Homo sapiens: one gene and its partners. The protein of the gene in region 4 purifies or fractionates together with the protein of the main gene of each other region. This does not show direct contact. Each region holds a gene or a part of one and is shown on either strand. Other genes may lie near its edges. The genes, in order: TMLHE, CPT1A, TOMM70, CPS1 and PTPN14.

Region 1 (3,879 bases), on a different chromosome or scaffold from region 4:
ATACTGCCAAAGATATTCTTTCCAAAGATAAATTAACATCCAATGGTGCCATTTTTGGATATCTCAGGCAATATTCCTTAGTGTTAGATAGTACATGGCACAATCAGAGCCAACATTCTTAGTTTTGTTGCATATAAAATGAGCATAATAACATCTGCTTAGCTGATCTCACAGGGCTACTGCAAGAATCAAATGCAAAAATAGGCCGGGCGCGATGGCTCACGCCTGTAATCCCAGCACTTTGGGAGGCCAAAGCGGTCAGATCACCTGAGGCCAGGAGTTCAAGACCAGCCTGGCCAACATGGCGAAACCCCATCTCTACTAAAAATACAAACAAAACAAAACAACAAAAAAATTAGCCAGGCGCGGTGGCACGCGCCTGTAGTCCCAGCTACTTGGGAGACTGAGGCAGGAGAATCACTTGAACCTGGGTGGCGGACGCTGCAGTGAGCCAAGATCGCGCCACTGCACTCCAGCCTGGGCGACAGAGCGAGACTCTGTCTCAAAGAAAAAAAAAAAAAGAAAGAAAGAAAGAAAGAAAAAGAATATAATAGTCCATCCTCCCAGGCTTCAAGGAGCCATGCCTGGAGGGAGAATGGAGTGAGGAAGCACAGTCTTCACCAGGCTGTTGACACCCATTGTCATTTCCAGAAACTTCTAGTGCTGGGTTAGGCATTTGTGAAAATATTATTTAATTTACTTATTTCATCATCCCAGAAGGAAAGGTGTTATTAACCTCCTTTTACATTTAAGGCAACTGAAACTTAGAGACCTGCCACAGAGTTCATACGTAGCAGAGAGGTTTTGAAATCAGGTGTCCTTAATTCTTTAACTCATTGTTTATACCAGAGAACAGAAAAATGATCGTAATTCCTGTGTACGCTTGTTCATGAGAGCAACATTTTTACAGATCACACTTACAATCTTTTGACTTCAAACTGAGATTTGCAGTTTAGAAATGTTTCCATATACACTATCTGATTGACCCTCTGCATGATAACCACGTGAGGTAAGTAGTACAGCTGTTATTGTCTTACTTTATAGATAAGGAAAATAATGATAAGACCTTGTGATTTGTCCAAGCTTACATGGAATTTGGTATTCACTATTTATATTAGATGGTGGTGTTTTCTAAAGCCAACAGAGAAAGTAGCAGGAAAAGTCTATTACACATAAGCAAAATGGTTGTGCAATACTTTGGATTAGAATAAGACTATTTCTGGACTTTGGCACAAAGTGATGCCATCATATTATTGTGCAGTTTTTCCTTTTTTTCCTGCTTTGATATGAAGCAAGAGAGACGTGGGAGTAGGGGAAAGCAAATAAAGCAGGCATTTATCTGACAAGAAAAGCTAGGAAGATTTAACAAAGTTATCCTTCTTCTTAGTTGACAGACAAGTATTTCCCAAGAGAGCTCCATAATTGAGCAGACGATGCATTTGATGGATTTGTGTATTGTGGTGTAAGTGAAAGCTGGTGGGCTTTCAGATAGGTAGATAAATAGGCTTTCAGTTAGATCACCATTACAATCTCAGTTCAGGTGTGTGACCTTGGAGGAGCTATAGAAATTATAAAAATGCTAGAAGAAAACCTCGGGATGACTCTCCAGGATAATGCTCTGGGAAAAGATTTTATTCCCCAAAAGCACAGGAAACAAAACCCAGAAATAGACAAATGAGACTGGATTAAACTAAAGAGTTTCTGTGAGGCAAGGGAAACAATCAACAGAGTGAAGAAACAACCCACAGTATGGGAATATGGCCATTGTAGAATGGCTGTTATTACAAAGACCAAAAATGACAGACGTTGGCAAGTATGTGGAGAGAAAAGAACTCTTATACATTCAATAAACGGTGCTGGGGAAACTGGATGTCCACATGCAGAAGAATGAAATTAGACCCTTTTCTTACAACATATACAAAAATCAACTAGAAATGGATTAAACGCTTACATGTAAGACCTGACACCGTAAATCTACTAGAAGAAAACACATGGTATAACTCTATGATATTGGTCTATACAATTACCTTTTGGATATGATCCAAAAGTATAAGCAACGGAAGAAAAACTAGGTAAATGAAATTGCATCAAACTGAAAAGCTTCTGCACAGCAAAGGAAACAAAAGAATGAAGAGACAACCTGCAGAATGGGAGAAAGTATTTGCAAACTATACATCTGATAAGGGGTTAATATCTAAAATATTTGAGGAACTCAAACAACTCAATAGTAAGAAAACAAATAACCTGATTTAAAAATGGGCAAAGGATCTGGATAGACATTTCTCAAAAGAAGACATACAAATGGCCAAGAGGTATATGAAAAAGTGCTCAACATCACTAGTAATCAGATAAATTCAAATTAAAACCACCACGGGATATCATCTCATACGCCTTAGGATGGCTATTATTAAAAAGACAAAAGATAACAATGTTGATGAGGATGTGGAGATAAGTGAACCCTTGCACACTGTTGGTGGGAATGTGAATTAGTGCAGCCATTATGGAAAACAATACGGAGGTTTCTAAAAAAAGCTAAAAGTAGAACTACTACATCATCCAGCAATCTCACCACTGGGTATATACCCAAAGGAAATGAAATCAGTATGTCCGAGAGATATCTTCCATGTTCTTTGCAGAAATATTCACAATAGCCAAGATATAAAATCAATCTAGGCAGAATACATGGGAGTGTATATAGAGAAAATGTGGTATGCATAAAAAGTGGAATACTATTCATCCTTGAAAAAGAAGAAAGTCCTGTCATTTGTGACAACATGGATGAACCTGGAGAACATTAAGTGAAAATAAGCCAGGCACAGAAATATCAATACTGCATGATCTCACTCATATGTGTAATGTAAAAAAAAAGTTGATATCATAGAAATAGAGAGCAGAATGGTGGGTACTAGAGGCTGGTGGGTTGTGGAGTAGTGGTTGGGTGGTTGGGGATATGTTGCTCAGAGGATACATAATTTTAGATCAGAGAAATAAGTTCAAGTGATCTATTTTTCCATGTGATGACTATAGTTAATAACAATGTATCGTAATTTGAAAATTTCTAAGAAACAGTCAATCAACGGAGTGAAGAGATAACTCACAGAATGTGAGAAAATGTTTGCAAACTATGCATCTACAAGAGATTAATACCCGGAGTATATAAGGAACTCAAACTCAATAACCAAAAAAGACATATTCCCTTAAAAATGGACAAAAGTTCTGAATAGACATTTCTCCAAAGAAGGCAGACAAATGGCAAATGGGTATATTTTTAAATGCTCCACATCACTAATCATTAGGGAAATGCAAATCAAAACCACAATATCACCTCACCCCAGTTACAATGGCTATCATTAAAAAGACAAAAAATAGGCTGAAAGTAAGGATGGTTAGTATGTACAAACACAGAGAGAATGAATAAGATCTAGTATTTGGCAGCACAATAAGGCAACTATAGTTAACAATAACTTATTGTATATTTAAAAATAACTAAGAGAGTAGAACTGGAGTGTTCCTAACACAAAGAAATAATAAAGGCTTGAAATGATAGATACCTCAATTATCCTGATTTGATCATTACATATTGTATGCCTGTATCAAAACATCACATGCACTCCATAAATATATACAACTATTATTTACCCATAATAATTAAAAAAATCAAAATTTAATTTAATAACATAAAATATAATAAAGTGATCTTAAAAGAAATTTGCCCGTGGTTAGATATTACTTGTTACACTTTAATTGATGATTTCTATTATAATTTCATAGTACTTAGAATATATATATATATTAGAAAATATCATCTATAGGATTTTTGCTTTCATGAGGGTAATGATATTTTAAGCCTAAAATATTAGAATTTTCAATAATTTTCTC
Region 2 (3,879 bases), on a different chromosome or scaffold from region 4:
TCCGCCTGACTCCAGCGTGCAGGTGCTTTCTGCTGATCCCCAGAGCGTGCAGGTGCTTTCCGCTGATCCCCAGAGGAGACACTGGCCAGGGCTCTTTTTTCCGAGACAAACTTCATTCTGGAAAGGCTGTCAGACCGGGCGCGGTGACTCACGCCTGTAATCCCAGTACTTTGGGAGGATGAGGTGGGCGGATTGCCTGAGCTCAGGAGTTCGAAACCACCCTGGGCAACATGTTGAAACCCCGTCTCTACTAAAAATAACAAAAAATATTAGCCGGGTGCGGTGGCTAACTTAGATCCGTAACTGCTCAACTTGAGACATGCAACATATGTCCTTCCCACCTTTTGTCACTCAGGTGGAACAGAGGCTGAAGTTGTTCAAGTTGGCGTCTGAGAAGCATCAGCATATGTATCGCCTCGCCATGACCGGCTCTGGGATCGATCGTCACCTCTTCTGCCTTTACGTGGTGTCTAAATATCTCGCTGTGGAGTCCCCTTTCCTTAAGGAAGTAAGTCTCTTCCACTTCTTCCGTCAGTTGTATTGGCTAGACCAAAACTTAGTAAATTACTACAGCCTTGCATGAACATATTTTAATGTCAGAATGGGCATTTGAAAAAAACGGGTCTGTGGGTGTAGCTGTCATAAAATGGAAAATGTGAGCAGCGCGTTTAGTACTGCATTTCTTCAAAAACTTCGCTGTCACATGTAGCCCCTGACTTAATAGACCCGAAGACCTCGAGAGCTTACGTCACAGTAAGACGCACGGAAGTAACTAGGGAGTGATGAGCTGTGAGCGCGTACCACCTTTGTTTTAAAAATCCTTTATTTTATTGTAAGTTTATGAAATATATTATTATTGTTTTTTGAGACAGGGTCTTACAGTGTTGCCCAGGCTGGGCTCAAACTCCTAGACACAAGCAATTCTTCGTCCTTAGCCTGCTGAGTAGCTGATGTGCACCACTGTGCCCAGCTCAAATTTAATTTAAGTTTTATTTATTTATTTATTTATTTTTTATTTTTTGGAGATGGAGTCTCGCTCTGTCACCCAGGCTGGAGTGCAGTGGCGCCATCTTGGCTCACTGAAACCTCCGCCTCCCGGGTTCAAGCTATTCTCCTGCCTCAGCCTCCCAAGTAGCTGGGATTACAGGCACACGCTGCCATGCCTGGCTAATTTTTTTTGTTGTTGTATTTTAGTAGAGACGGGGTTTCACCGTGTTGCCCAGGCTGGTCTCGAACTCCTGAGCTCAGGCAATCCACCCGCGTCGGGTTCCCAAAGTGCTGAGATTACAGACATGAACCATTGCGCCTGGCAAATTTAATTTTTAATAGTGGCTGTATTTAATAGCCAGCTTGAAAATTCTCTGAAAATATGGCAGCTGGCTCGTGGGAGTTGGTACAAGTCTGACACCTCTGTCCCCGTTCCGAATCTTACTCCATATATCTGTTACCTTCACTGTCTGAGATGCTATTTGCTGGTATGCCCCCACCCCCACCCTGCACTCCCTGCCCCAGTCTGGGGGCCCCACCCACCCCGCATGCTCTCTGCAGATACGCTGCCCAAGCCAGTGAGGCCTTTGGAGACATAGACTTGTGGTGTGTGGAACAATCAAAAGACCAAGCCAGGCTTTTCTCGTCTTCCCAAAGCGACTCCTGAGGGACGGTAGAGGAGGGGATTAGGAAACATTTCCCTGTTTCACTCAATAGGTTTTATCTGAGCCTTGGAGATTATCAACAAGCCAGACCCCTCAGCAGCAAGTGGAGCTGTTTGACTTGGAGAATAACCCAGAGTACGTGTCCAGCGGAGGGGGCTTTGGACCGGTGAGTGCGGCGGGGCTGGGCGAGGCGCAGTGGGGCGTGGTGATGGGATGGGTAATGGGGTGTGATGGGCCCATCTCCGTGCTGGGTGCCCCCGTTACCTTGCGGTTCTACCGCCGTAAAGGAATTACTGCTGATCATTGCTATGGATGTCCTTGGCAGTCTTGCACTTATTTTTTATTTTTTTGAGACAAGGTCTCGCTCTGTCACCCAGGCTGGAGTGCAGTAAGCATGATCATGGCTCATGGCAGCCTGAATCTCCCCCATCTCAGGTGATCCTCCCACCTCCACCTCCTGAGTAGCTGGGACTACAGATGCATGCCACCATGCCCAGCTAATTTGTGTGTGTGTGTGTATTTTTTTGTAGAGACAGGGTTTCACCATGTTGTCCGGGCTGGTCTCGAACCCCTGGGCTCAAGTGACCCGCCTGCCTCAGCCTCCCAAAATGCTGGGATTACAAGGAGAAGCCACCGAGCCCCGCCAGTGTTGCATTTAGAACATTAGAAAGTCCCTTTTTCACGTTGTCTCATTTCCCAGCAACAAATTCAAATTCCCTTGTCCTCCAGGTTGCTGATGACGGCTATGGTGTGTCGTACATCCTTGTGGGAGAGAACCTCATCAATTTCCACATTTCTTCCAAGTTCTCTTGCCCTGAGACGGTATGTATGAAAAGAAGTTCCTTTTTCTGAAGATGGGGTATTTTTGCTTTATTCTTTTTAAGGAAACACATCTTTAATTTGACAGAAAAAGTCAATTCAACTGCCTGCTTTTACTTGATTTCGGGAATTTTCACATAAATGGACTGCTTTTAAAAAAAAATTTTTTTTTTTTTGGAGACACAGTCTCACTCTGTCGCCCAGGCTGGAGTGCAGGGGCGAGATCTTGGCTCACTGTAACCTCTGCCTCCCGGGCTCAAGTGATTCTCCTGCCTCAGCCTCCCAAGTAGCTGGGACTACAGGCACCCGCCACTACCCCGGCTAATTTTTTTGTATTTTTAGTAGAGACAGGGTTTCACCATGTTGGGCAGGCTGGTCTCAAACTCCTGACCTCAGATGATCCACCTGCCTCGACCTCCCAAAGTGCTGAGATTACAGGCATGAGCCACCGCGCCTGGCCTAAATTTTTTTAATTAAAAAATTGTTTGTACAGACAGGGTCTCCCCACATTTCCCAGGCAAGTCTTGAACTCCTGGGCTCACGCGATCCTCTTACCTCAGCCTCCCAGTGTTGGGATTACAGGCTTCAGCCACTGTGCCCAGCCATAAGTGAATTTCAAAATTCTCTTTACCTAGTTTTAAACAAATGTATCTCAGCCAGGCACGGTGGCTCACACCTATAATCTCAGCACTTTGGGAGGCTGAGGCTGGCCAATCACTTGAGGTGAGGAGTTTGAAACCATCCTGGCCAACATGGTGAAACCCCGCCTCTACTAAAAATACAAAACTTAGCTGGTGTGGTGGCACACGCCTGTAATCCCAGCTACTCAGGAGGCTGAGGTAGGAGAATCGCTTGAACCCGGGAGGTGGAGGTTGTAGTGAGCCAGGATCATGCCACTGCACTCCAGCCTGGGTGATGGAGTGAGACTCCGTCTCAGAAAAAAAAAAAAAAAAAAGGAAATGTATCTAATTTGGTTTAACATGTTTACCTCTGTTGGCAGCAATGGTTTTGAAGCTTAACGTTGGAGTGCTGCTGTAACTTTCAGACTCTTTAGCACTTGGAAGATGAACTAAAAATAATGGGTACACACTAAGAAATCTGCATACAGAGCAGGGGACCCCCGGCTTCCTCTGTGGATGGAACAAGGGACCTCCTCCCTAGCATGGCACATTGCCCTTATTTATATTCTGCTTTCCTTGTCGTACATAGCCTGGCAACCCATGCCACTGTCGCTGTTAACAGAGGAAGTTGGGGTTTATTTGTTCACTGCGGTTTTCTTTTGTTGTTTGTTTGTTTGTTTGTTTTAGACAGGGTCTCACTCTGCCACCCAGGCTAGAGTGCAGTGGTGTGATCTCGGCTCACTGCAGCTTCAGCCTCCTGGGCTCAGGGGATCCTCCTACTTCAGCCT
Region 3 (3,879 bases), on a different chromosome or scaffold from region 4:
GAAAAAAAAAAAAAGTATATACGTGTGTGTGTGTGTGTGTGTGTGTGTGTGTGTGTGTCTGTGTCTGTGTCTGTGTCTTTTAGCTGGACGTGGTGGTGTGCACCTGTAATCCCATCTGCCTAGAACATGGAGGTAGGGGGATTGCTTGAGCTTGAGAGTAGCCTGGGCAGCATAGCAAGACACCTCTCATGCTTTTTTGGGGGGGCAGGCGGAGACAGAGTCCCAATCTCTCACCAAGGCTGGAGTACAGTGCTATGATCTCGGCTCACTGTAGCCTCCACCTCCTAGATTCAAGCAATTCTCATGCCTCAGCCACCCGGGTAGTCGGGACTGCAGGCGTGTGCCACCATACCCAGCTATTTTTTGTATTTTTAATAGAGACGGGGTTCCGACACGTTGCCCAGGCTGGTCTCAAACTCCTGGCCTCAAGTGATCCACCCGCCTCAGCCTCCCAAAGTGTTGAGATTATAGGCATGAGCTGCCATGCCTGGCCAAGATATGCTTTTTGACTCAACAATCCTACTAGTTAGAATCTATTCCATGAAGATATTTGTATGAAGCAACTTACATTGTAAACAGCCATTCTGTCTTCCTGTTTTTATCAATTTATTGTTTAATTACTGTGGTCTGAGTCTGTGAATGTTGATTAGTGTTTGATAATTGTTTCCTCTCATTTCAGAACTCTCTTGATAGAGCCCAAGCAGCCAAGAATAAAGGCAATAAATATTTTAAAGCAGGAAAATATGAACAAGCTATTCAGTGCTATACTGAGGCTATTAGCTTGTGCCCTACAGAGAAGAATGTTGACCTTTCTACATTTTATCAAAACAGAGCTGCTGCCTTTGAACAGTTGGTATGTACTCTAGGTTGTTTCTTCTGTTCCTTTTCTTTCTCTTTATTTGCTTAAAGTTTCAGTTAAAGCTACTCAAATAAACCTAATACATTTTTTGAAGTTGTTTCAAAATTATGGGATGTTGTTCTTATTTCCATTAATTGCAAAACTTTTTAAAGAACAAATTCTATAGTTTTGCTGACTACAGATATACTCCAAAGTTAAGTATATTTCACATTTTATAAAATTAGATAGTATAGAAAGTTTCTGGTGACCCTATTCTCCTCAACAGTTTGAGGCTATTTCTTTAACTTTTTGATATTTATATGAGCTTTTGTAATATATTGCAGATATTAACTCTTTGTATTAGGAATACTTTTTTATTCTAGGACTTTTAATACTCAACCTATCAAGTTTAAACTGATTTCTATTGAACAGTACTTTCTTTAGTGTGACTTTTTTTAAATACTTTCAATTACAGCAAAAATGGAAAGAAGTGGCACAAGACTGTACAAAAGCTGTTGAACTTAATCCCAAATATGTGAAAGCTCTCTTTAGACGTGCAAAAGCCCATGAGAAGCTAGACAATAAGAAGGAATGTTTAGAAGGTGAGGGTAATTTTGTGTTTACATATGAAAATTACTTAATATTTTGTAGTCATTGGTAAATGTATATGAAACTGCCTTGTGAGTGCAAGAATCAGTTGTTTTTAAAAGTTGGATTCCTTTGCACTTAAGATTGTGTCTTCTAGTTTAAAGTAAGATTGCTGATACTTAAGTATTGTCTCTGTTCTCAACTATGGAATTAAATGACTATTAAGATTAGGAGTTTATGTACTACACATTTTAAACTTAGCAGCTAATGAGCATTAGTATAATTCTCTGAATAAGGAAATCAGAAAAGAAGTTTTAGCAAGTGATAGTGTTTCTAAGGTTCTACATATTTCATTTAATATGTATAAATATAGCTTTGAGAGCTGTGTTTATAATATGTATAAACATAGCTTTGAGATGAATCATTAAAGAAAACATTGTTTTGTGCCCTTGGTATTTTCAAACATTATTTTATACCCAATTGGAAATTATTGTTTTATACCTAATTTACACCTAATTGGAAATGATGTAATTGGTACAAAGCATCAAAGTGAATTTGTCATTCTCATTAAATGCCATAAATATTCTGTGGTCTCTGATTGGCCATTTCTCTGCTTCCAAAGCTGCAATTAACAGTATACATCCAGCCTTTAAAGTACATTCTTCTAGGTGACATGAAGCAAAACCAAAGTATAATTTTCTACAATCTAAAAGTTCTTTCCACTTAATATATTTGTCTGCTTTAAAAGCATCAGTAAAAGGAAAAGGCCCCTTTCTGAAAAGAAAAGTGTAGATTACCAAATGAGGGTATTTTAGAGAACATTTTAGCAAAATTTGAGGTTTTGTGGTGGCACATACTTTGGTAGTGTGTGAAAAGACTGTTGTTTTAGAAAAGGGAATCCTGAGTTTTGAACCAGACCTTGAAGTTACTAACACAATAACTGGCAGAGAGGAGGTTGATCGAAGTGTCACGTAGAAGAAACAGGATGGGAAAAAAGACATTGACATTGGCGCTAGCCGTGGTTATCAGGGGAATATATCAGCAGATTGACTTGATTGGTGGAGCAAGGATGTGGAATTGCAAGAAATTTAATTCGGGAAGAGACGAGACGTCCATTGTTTGAGTGCTTTGAACGAAAGGCTGAGAGGTTAAGGAACCACTTACTTTTTAATTTCAAACCACTGCATGCATCTTGAGCTGTGACATAACCAGATGAAAATGGTATTGAGGCAGATTTATTTGAGAGCTCTGTGGCAAGATGGCTTTGGAGACAGGGAATAACTCTGAGGCCTATAAACAAACACCAGACATGAGAGAGCCACACTATGTTTATATGCCTTAGAGTTGCTAGCCAGAAGAGAATGTTAGAGTGGTGAGAAACATCAGAAATCATGCAGCATAGCCCCTTTCATTTCACAGTTAAGGAAAGCAAACCCCAGAGAAGTGGAGTGACTTTCTGAGCTTTCAGTTTGGTCATAGAGAATATAAAATTAGGTATTAAGAATCAGTTAATTGGAAATGAAACAGTCCCATTTGGCCATGAATTTAGTTTGGCTTTCTGTAGTTACATTGTACCCATTTGATGCTGCTGACCATCTTTGCAATAATTTTATATTTACCCTTGTGTTTTTCATCATTTCTAGATGTCACTGCTGTGTGTATATTAGAAGGGTTCCAAAATCAACAAAGCATGCTGTTAGCCGATAAAGTTCTTAAACTCCTTGGAAAAGAGAAAGCCAAAGAAAAATATAAGGTAAATTGATCTGATTTGGGGAATGGGGGAGTACTGTGTACATTGTGAAGGGTATTTTCTAATTTATGCTGCTTAAGCTTAGGCATAGTGGTAATGGCAACAACTGCAATTAGAACTGGGTTATATTTCTTCTTCCTGTTATCTTTGGCTTTTATGGCTTGTCCTTCTTCAGTAAGAATATATGCTCTGTCCATTACTCTACCTGGAGAATATTGGAATTCATCTGTGTTAGGGATTGCCACACTGTGGCCCATAGGCCAAATCCAGTCTGCTACCTGTTTTTATAAATAATGTTCAGTCACATGTTGTTTTCAGCTGCCTTTGAGATACAACAGCGGAGTTGAGTGGTTGTGACAAACTGTATAGACTCCAAAGCCTAAAATATTTACTATCTGGCCTTTCACAGAAAAATATTTTTCTATATTATTAAAGTTTTTAAAGGTATACTGAGTAAGTTGGCATTAGTTTTAGGCTATTATTAACAGGTAGTTTAATTCAACAATCATTTATTAAACAAAGCTACATGTTTGGCATTTTGGAGGGATGGGTTCAAAGACATGGCCCTTACCCTTATAGAATTAAAATTTAGTGAGAGAGACTGACTGTTACTGTGTATAAAAGGCATGCAGTAGTTAAGTGCCCAAGGTGAGATGTAAGTAAAGAGAGTACCATAGGCATCACTAAACATCACTGGAGATTC
Region 4 (3,879 bases):
GAAATTGGTGACAAAAGATATCAAAGAGTAAGAAAAAGCACTGGCTTCAACAAGGATATTTGGCAAAATACCCTGGCATAAATCCTGGTCAGCACTGAACTCTCAAACCCCGTCTCCATTCTCCCCTGCACAGAAGGCACAATGTGTCAGAAAATCAGTGAGGTACTAGGAATAGCATCCTGCAGTGAATATGCTTGATTTACATTATTGAGGCTTGCCATTCAAAGTGCTGATATGACAGTAAATCAAACTAATTTAGGAAAAAGAGAAAATAATTGAGCAATCAGGCAGAGGGAAATGAAATTATTTCAGCAGCTAGGCTTCTGTGAAACCAGAAAATGTGATAAGTGTGAATAAATATGGAAAAATAAGTCTAAAGACTCTGGCTCTCTCTAAAATAGCTGAGGGTGCTTTGTACAGTGACACACACAATAAAAGTTAGTTGATGTTGATGAGGAGGAGAAAGGAGATGATGATGGTTGTAAACGGTTAGCCAAGATGGCATATAAAACTTGAGAATTAGAAGAATCATATGGGACTATTATTATGGTTAATCACTGCCTAAATGCTTAAATACTCTGAGTCATATATCATGTATGCCTGATTAGACAGATATGAATTAGCATAATTATAATTTCATATTTACGGCACACCCACAATGGGTAGAATACTGAACCCAAAATAGGAAAGTGGTAATCTTTGACCTTAGGACATGCAGTGGCTGATAATCCAAGGGAGAAATGTCTTATTGTCTTATAATATATTTGATTTGGATTGACAGTGAAAGGGAAAGCAGTTTGAATTTTTTCAAATTATTAATAGGCATTAAAATAATAATTTAATGTAAGTTTTTCTGTAATGTGCCTTAATAGGATTTTTTTAAACTTCAGTCATCACTACAGGCTCCAGCACGTGCAAATGAAAATGTGACACATTTGTCCCCACAGCTGCCCACGATGAGGTTCTCAAAGTGGTTAGAAAATTCAGTAGCCAATGTTAACAATTTAATAATGATTAATTCATCATTCCGGTTGCCTGCTAAAAGAAGAAATCTAGGAAACAAAGGGTATAAATTTGGAAAAGTATTTTGCATTCTAATGAAGTAAAATGGATATTTAGATACAGGGAAAATTTGAAATTATCTTCACCTGTTTCCTCAGCTTATTTTTATTTTTATTTTTTGAAGTCTTCGATTTTATGTAAAAAGTTAATTTAGGGACCTGGATAAGTTAATGCAGCTTTTAATGGTGCTAATTATAACCTCAAGAGAATAGGGGATTGTTTAGGACATAATGATATGACTAATTATTCTCAAGGGAAGAGCGAGGGTTTTTTTCAACAAGAAAAACCATTTAAGGGACTATTGATTATTTGAGTACAATATAAATAATTGAAAGCTATTTCATTCCAAAATTCTCTTTATTATAAACTTTCTTACATGAAAAGTTCAGTCTTCAGATTGGTTTCTTATAGAGTAAAAAAATTAATAGAGAATATGTATACACTGTCACAATTGGCAGTTATGAAGTTGTTAATATTGAAAATATTTGGAGCCTCTAACATGCTAGAGGAAATAAACTTTCTATCTTCAAAAACATGTTTTTGCTCTAAATATGTGATTCATATGTCCAGAATGGTAACAAGAAACATTTATGTGAGGTATGTTTCCCTTTTTTGTAATTTTCACAACTTTAGAAAAACGAAACCCAAGTTGTTTATATGTAAGTCTGCCATTGTAGTTATTTAAATATGCTGAATTGTACTTATCTGTTTTCAAAATTCTATGTCAACAATTCAAGGGTCTCATTTCACTTCAGTTCAAAAAGTAAGTAAAGATGAAGCAATAAGCTGTCCGTGAGCTATTTCCTAAATAATTCCCAAAATAGCCCTTACAGTAATTCTGTCAAATTCACTTCTATGACTGCCATGTAAGTTACACAGGTTTCTTGGCTGCACGTGTAATCATTCTTCAAAGACATTATTGAACTCCTGGTATTTCCAGGCACTGTTCTATTTTGTGGAAATAGAGTATAGACAAAAGTCTCTGTTTTCCTGGAGCATATTTTCTGCATTAGTCTCTAATTTAGTTTTTGTAGCATAGCTTACTTTTCTCAAGAGTTTTCCTCTAACATGCAAAGAAAGAAGTAGTTCCTAATATGTTAAAGTGATTTTGATAGAAAATAAATTATAAACCCTCAAATCTCTCGTGTTTTTATGAGTATATGGCAGTTGGTGGAGTTCAGTCATTTACTGTATTGAGTGGTTTATACCATGTATATTTTAGACACCTTAATTTTGAGTAAAGTCAAACTACTCAATGTGCTTTGTTTCACTTTCTGGATGTCACCCATGCCAGCCACATTATTTCTAAAAAATTAAAAATGAGACATTATGTCCTATTTTTCCTTAACCACTAAAACATATTTTAGCATTTTAAATATTTGAGAGTAGATTTTGAAACAAAGGAAGAAGGAGTTGAATTAAGTTCATCTCCTTGAAGTCAATAGATTGTACTATAAAAGTGGAATTTGAGGTAAAGTGACCACTGGTTTACCTTGAACCATGTGGTTTATCATTGCATCCTGGCATGAAGAGTTGCACTGCATGCTCTCGCAAAAGTGTCATCTTTTGGAATACGCTTTTGGAGAACATGATCATGATTTAATAAAGAAAATGTAATTTCTCATCTACATAACTTTCTCTAGTTGAAAAGGTCTATCAAGCCAGTTTTTTTGGTTGGTAAGAATATTGTCTACAAAAATACATACCTTTGTGCTGAGGTCCATCAAAGTCTCTCTGTTGGGACAGATGCCTGAGCCTAACCCACCCAGTGCATAGGCGGAACGGATCATCACTGGGTAGCCAATGGTGTCTGCTGCCTTCAGTGCATCCTCAATCTGTCAACAAGAACAAGGACTCAACATTTTAAAAGCTGAGCACACTGGCAGAACAGACCACACCAAGAGAGTCTGGCAATCAGGTAAACCAACTTATGTGGGGAGAGTGAATCTAGAAATGTTCTATTATTCCCTCATCTCATTCTGAAAAGCAAGTGTTGTTACTCAAATGTTAAGTAAAATTCTAGAAGGGAGGATATATATATATATATCTTCTAAGAAATACACTTTTGCGGTAAATTTTATCCTGTCCTATTGAAACAGAACCATGGTCAAAGCAGAAATAATCATCATTCATTTGAGAATGGCAGCCATATTGAATTATTGGATTTTTACGATTTTTACATGCAGCTTAAAAGTCTCTGTCTTAATGAAACCAGGTTCTCTGCTGCTGAAGCTAGCTTGATGTTACCACAATAAGCCATTAGGAACACTGTATATAAATGGATTTTTCATTTTCAAGTTCAGTCTGAGCATAGTCCCAGAAGCTTGGAATTCTTTTTTTTAACTTACAGAATACAACATATGGTGGCTATATTTTTCTGTCATGGAATATTATTACACTACCAATGGGAATGTAATTACACCTTTCCCATATGCCTGTTTCTTTTCCTGAGGAAGCAAGGACATAATTAAATCTGGCAATGAAAGAACAAATGTATGGCAAGAGCTTCCCAAATTGTGCAGCAGAGTTATCCTGGGATTATTTGATTGACAAGTTTGTAACACAAAAGATACTTGGTAGCATTGTCTTCTGAAACATACATAACCCATTTTTAGTTGTCCCAGCAGTACCTGCTTTATTCCTAAGGGTGTGCCTGTTTCTACCATGGAGAAGTTGGATTTAACACTGCCCCTAGCACCTCCACTTCACCAGCTATGAGCCTGAAGTCAAAAATAAAGTCAGGGGCAAAAACAGATATAAAGTGAGTTGATTCTTTTTCCTGGTAACTGTTAATAGCTTATTGATAGGCATAAGGGG
Region 5 (4,536 bases), on a different chromosome or scaffold from region 4:
GAAAATCAGAGTCACTACGGATTTATTTATTTTATTTTATTTTATTTTATTTTATTTTTTTGAGAGGAGTCTGGCCGTGTAGCCCAGGCTGGAGTGCAGTGGCGCGATCTCGGCTCACTGCAACCTCCGCCTCCCAAGTTCAAGCAATTAACCTGCCTCAGCCCCAGAGTAGCTGGGACTACAGGCGCACGCCGCCACCCCCGAAACATTTTTTGAATTTTAGTAGAGACGGGGTTTCACCGTGTTGCCCGGGCTGGTGTCGAACTTCTGAGCTCAGCCAATCCCCCAGCTTTGGCTTCCCAAAGTGCTGGGATTACAGGTGTGAGCCACCGCGCTTTTTGGTTTCCAATTCTCTTCCCCAAGAGGCCAGGAATTTTTGCATGAGTTGCCGGACACTGAAGTGATTTGGGACAATACATTGTGTGCCAACGACTTCAAGGTCCCTTTTCAACAAAGGACTGGAATCTTACCGAGATAAATCCCAAGACATGTTTGTAGCAATGCAAAGGACCACAGAAATCTAGACAAATTATTTAATTTTGCAGCTACAGAAACCTAGGATCTCAGGGGCTGGGATACTCCTCAGTTATCCAATCGGGCAGGGCCTAAAACCCAGGTTCAGTCGCCTGGCTCCGAGCTTTTTCCATCATACCAGCTGCGTCTCATTAACTCCACCTCCGAAAGTGCTAAGGAAGTTCCCTCCCAGTGCCTACCCAGGCAGGGTGGGGCGATTCTGTGGCATGGAACAAACCGGGAAAACGACATTTTCCAACTCTCAGCACACAGGCTGCTTTTTATCATTCCTACGGGGCGGGAGGGGGCAGGGAGAGAAGGCTAAGACACCGGGTCCAGTACCCAGAGATTCTAGGGAGAGATCTCTGAGATTGCCTACTTGGTGAGGCCACCTTACTTTCTCCTGGTCTGTTTTCCCCTGTGGGGTGGCTGCATGAAACGTCCTGCTTGGAGGGTTCCCCAATATAAGGTGGACTATTCTGAATGTAGGTCGGGGTGAGCAAGTTCCTGCCGCCGCCCCGTCTCTGCGGTCCTCGGAAGTCTAGGTGGGCTCTTCCTTGCCTTGCCTCTTTCTCCCCAACGGCGGGAGCAGCCCAGGGTTGGGGTGGCTGCGGTCGCCTTGCTCTCTCCACTTCCACGTCTCTTACTCCAGGGAGTTTCATCCGGTCCTCCGTCCTCGGCCCCCACCTTTTAAAACATTTTCCAAAACTACCCCATTAAAAGTGTGCGACTTCTCCGGGCCTGCAGAAGGAGCTCCTGCAGCCCGGCATTCCTCGGATTCCAGCGCTGTGACGTCCCCAAGGACGGCGCGCCTCCAGCTCGGGAGCTCGGGAGCTGGGGCTCCACGTTTCAGCGCGCGCCCGCGGCGCCCCCGGCGCGCGCCCTCCCGGGCCGCATTCCTCCCCGCCCCCGGCCGCGCGCCCAGCGCTCCCTCCGCCTCCCGGCCCCCAGGGCCGCGGAGCCCGGCTCTGGGGTGGGGGAGCCGTGGCCGCCGGCGCCTGCTCCGTCCCCTCCCACTCGCACGGCCCCTTCCTCCCTCCTCTCCCGGCCGCTCGCATTTCCTGCCGCTCTGGCTCTCCCGGCCCCTCAAAGTTCTTTCCAACTTTTTCTCGGCGGAGTGAGCGCAGCGGGCGCAGACTCGGGGGCAGGTTGCTGTGCTTCTCCGGGCTCAGCCGCCTGCTCTCCTGGCTCAGGTCCTCGGGGAGCCCTAGACAGACATCAAGTGGCCACTGGCGCTCCTTCCCCTCCCAGCTGAGCCATCCTCCCCGGCCTCCTCGGGCGGGACAGCCCCGTGCTTAGGTTTTTCTCCTTTTCTCCCCCGGTGCGCCTCTGCTCGGACTCTCGCGCCGGGATCGCGGCGGAAACCTCCCTCCCCTTTCGCCTCCTGCGGCTCCTTCCCTTCGCCCCTCCTCCGCCAGTCACTGGAATCAATTCCGTGGGGAATCGGCTCCGCCGCCGCGAAGGACAGCCTTTCCGCGCGGGACTCCGGGGCGCCACGGGGGCCATGTAAGCAGGTAAGCCCCGTCCAAGCCGGGAGTTGGGCCCGAGGTTGGAGGCCGCCTTGGCGCTCCGGGCGCCCTGCAGATGACTTGGGCAGACGCTGGCAACGCCAACTTGCGATTGGCGCCCCGGGACGCCTGGCAGGGCAGCCTGGGGCGCGGGGTGGCCGGGCCGCAGGGGTGTTATCTCGCGGTGGGAGCTGCCCGCGGTGAGGCGCAAAGCTGGTCCCGGGAGCGAGCTGGAAGGTGAGCGCAGTCTGGGGAGTTTGTGGTTAAACCCACACCCTGGTCCCCTCTCTCCATTCCCTTCTGCGTTTTGGGAACGAGAGAGGGCCTCGGAAGGGCAACTAGAGATACCTAGACCTTGGGGGCTAGAGGATGAAAGACGAACGACGTCGCGGTCGCTGCAGCGGTAGGGGGATGCAGCTGCCCGACGCTCCCAATCACACCCCACCACCACCGGGAAGGAATCTTGAGGGGAGCGGAGTTTTCCTGCCCTCTCACTAGGCCCCAGTGGTGCCACCGAACTCCTGGGCGTCGAGGCTCCTACTTGGGTGGTCGAGCTGGCTCGTAGAAAAAAAGCTGTGGCCAAACAATTTCAGATCAGGTCTTCACCTCAAACTTCCAAAGTTGTAGGTATTAACAGCCTCTCCTTCCCCACGTGACCCCCAGATCTCAGGTTTGAATACTTGTAAATGGGGTTTACACCTTTTCGTTTGGAGAGAGCAGTGAGGTAACGCTGCCCCTATCTCCCTTTCCCTCTCACTTCCTTGGGTTCTTGTTCTCCAACCTTCTCATCCCCACCTACAATTTCAGAAATTGTGGGGTTTCCGCTTAAGTCTAGGGACTGGCTGTCGCAGGTTCTTTGTGAAGGTGAGGAATCTCTAGACTGCAGGTGCGGGCAGTTACAGAGTTTCCACCAATGTGTTAACTTCTTGAAATGGATTAGTTTACTCATTCATCCAACAAACCCAGCTTCTACTCTGCTAGGAACAGGATAGAAAGATGCTAAATGAGATCACAGGGCAGGAGTCTGCAGCCTAGTGGAGGAAACTTGAAGGCCGGTGAAGAATGATAATACATGGAAGAGGGGTTCTGTGAGAGTCTGAGGCGAGCTTGGTCCTGGTGAAGGGTGCACTACACTTAGAGGATAGAGGTTGTGCTCCTCTGGAGGGTGTATTCCAGGCAGAGGAAACAGCTCGTGCAGAGTGAACACAAGAAGGACAGAAAGTTTCCCTAGCCATCTGGGGGCCTGAGGGGCATTTATGGCCATGTTGGTGCAGTGTTGCTGGGATAGCATTCTCTCCACCCCCAATATCAGAAATAAATCTAGAAGCACGTTAGCCACTTATGGGAACCACAAGTAGCTTACCGAGGAGCCAAGGCCTCCCTAATTGGATACACCTCCATGCCTGCTGCTGTTTTACCACAAGCAGCTGTTGTATGATCATCTACATTTTAATTGGCCCATGCTCGGTTTCATTAAAATGGTATTGATTCTTCTTTTTTGTCCCCCACATTCAAGCAATGATTCCTTTTTTAAAAAGGCTGTTTGACAGCCGTAGGTGTGGTAATACCGCAGCATTACGGACCTTGTATTATAAAGTTAGCTAATTGTTTGGTGATGAGGTTGAAGCTTGTGCCATAGAAATGACAGCCTTAATGAGCGGGAGCTGAATGGCATGATGCCCTTTTTGCCCAGTCTGAATGGGTGGCCATGAGGTGCAAAATTCGTTCATCTGTATGTCACTAAGTTTGTTATACTTTTCTCTGCTTTTAAGTCATTACTATTGCTTTAGCACAGTTGTGCTAAAGTCGTTCTTTTCTCTGAAACTTTATGAAAATAGAAAACACTATCTTGCACATTTTTGTAGACTAATGGCCCAGGATTCAGCAAATCCTGCCTAGAAAAGTTTCTTACAATGCAGTAGCATTCTGTACGTGGTTTGCCTTTCAAGGGTGTCTCTTCACTGGACTGAAGTGGTGTTGTAGTATTGTTCATAGTGGCTGAGTCCTGGCTGAGGTGGCAGACATCCAGCTTTTGGTGACCTCAGGCCAGTACATCAGAGTGGGAAGAACACACTGACTTCCTACAACTTTGGGTGTTTATCCAAGCCCCTCTACCAGCATCTTTTCTTATCTCAGGAACAGCCCCTTCACAGAAGTTTTCCTGAAGGTGTAGGGACCTGCATGAGAGAAATGGCTGAAGAGAAGCCCACTCCCACTAATCCCAGACATTTGCCCAGTTTCCATCATTGGCTTAAACATGTAATTATTATTAACACTTGAGTTATTCAGATTTGTGCATACTGTGTCATGCTGGTAGCTGTAATAGAAAGGACAGTTAGGCTTTTAATAGGGAAGCACCATAAGGAATTCAGAGAAAAATCAGAATTTTTAGAATAATTCTTATTTGCCCTGAACGGATGGGCTAAGTGTCAAGAACTATGAGGATTTTTTATTTTCCAGTGCCTTCCTTCCTTATTAGAGGTTTAAATTTGCTCCGGGGAAGCAAACATCAACC

Evidence for each region.
Region 1: the proteins of CPS1 (region 4) and TMLHE purify together in Homo sapiens (co-immunoprecipitation; one large-scale study listed by IntAct). This does not show direct contact.
Region 2: the proteins of CPS1 (region 4) and CPT1A fractionate together in Homo sapiens (co-fractionation; one large-scale study listed by BioGRID). This does not show direct contact.
Region 3: the proteins of CPS1 (region 4) and TOMM70 fractionate together in Homo sapiens (co-fractionation; one large-scale study listed by BioGRID). This does not show direct contact.
Region 5: the proteins of CPS1 (region 4) and PTPN14 purify together in Homo sapiens (co-immunoprecipitation; one large-scale study listed by IntAct). This does not show direct contact.

The regions. Positions count from the first base shown.
Region 1 is NC_000023.11:155,494,137-155,498,015, forward strand, and holds part of TMLHE (trimethyllysine dioxygenase, mitochondrial isoform 1 precursor), read right to left. Parts: intron 1-3,879. UniProt on the Homo sapiens protein: Converts trimethyllysine (TML) into hydroxytrimethyllysine (HTML).
Region 2 is NC_000011.10:68,758,164-68,762,042, reverse strand, and holds part of CPT1A (carnitine O-palmitoyltransferase 1, liver isoform), read left to right. Parts: intron 1-355; coding exon 356-508; intron 509-1,704; coding exon 1,705-1,818; intron 1,819-2,381; coding exon 2,382-2,474; intron 2,475-3,879. UniProt on the Homo sapiens protein: Catalyzes the transfer of the acyl group of long-chain fatty acid-CoA conjugates onto carnitine, an essential step for the mitochondrial uptake of long-chain fatty acids and their subsequent beta-oxidation in the mitochondrion.
Region 3 is NC_000003.12:100,383,779-100,387,657, reverse strand, and holds part of TOMM70 (mitochondrial import receptor subunit TOM70), read left to right. Parts: intron 1-679; coding exon 680-853; intron 854-1,313; coding exon 1,314-1,440; intron 1,441-3,069; coding exon 3,070-3,179; intron 3,180-3,879. UniProt on the Homo sapiens protein: Acts as a receptor of the preprotein translocase complex of the outer mitochondrial membrane (TOM complex). Recognizes and mediates the translocation of mitochondrial preproteins from the cytosol into the mitochondria in a chaperone dependent manner.
Region 4 is NC_000002.12:210,601,220-210,605,098, reverse strand, and holds part of CPS1 (carbamoyl-phosphate synthase [ammonia], mitochondrial isoform b precursor), read right to left. Parts: intron 2,898-3,879; coding exon 2,769-2,897; intron 1-2,768. UniProt on the Homo sapiens protein: Involved in the urea cycle of ureotelic animals where the enzyme plays an important role in removing excess ammonia from the cell.
Region 5 is NC_000001.11:214,548,674-214,553,209, reverse strand, and holds the start of PTPN14 (tyrosine-protein phosphatase non-receptor type 14), read left to right. Parts: upstream 1-1,607; 5' UTR 1,608-2,027; exon of another isoform or gene 2,028-2,258; intron 2,259-4,536. UniProt on the Homo sapiens protein: Protein tyrosine phosphatase which may play a role in the regulation of lymphangiogenesis, cell-cell adhesion, cell-matrix adhesion, cell migration, cell growth and also regulates TGF-beta gene expression, thereby modulating epithelial-mesenchymal transition.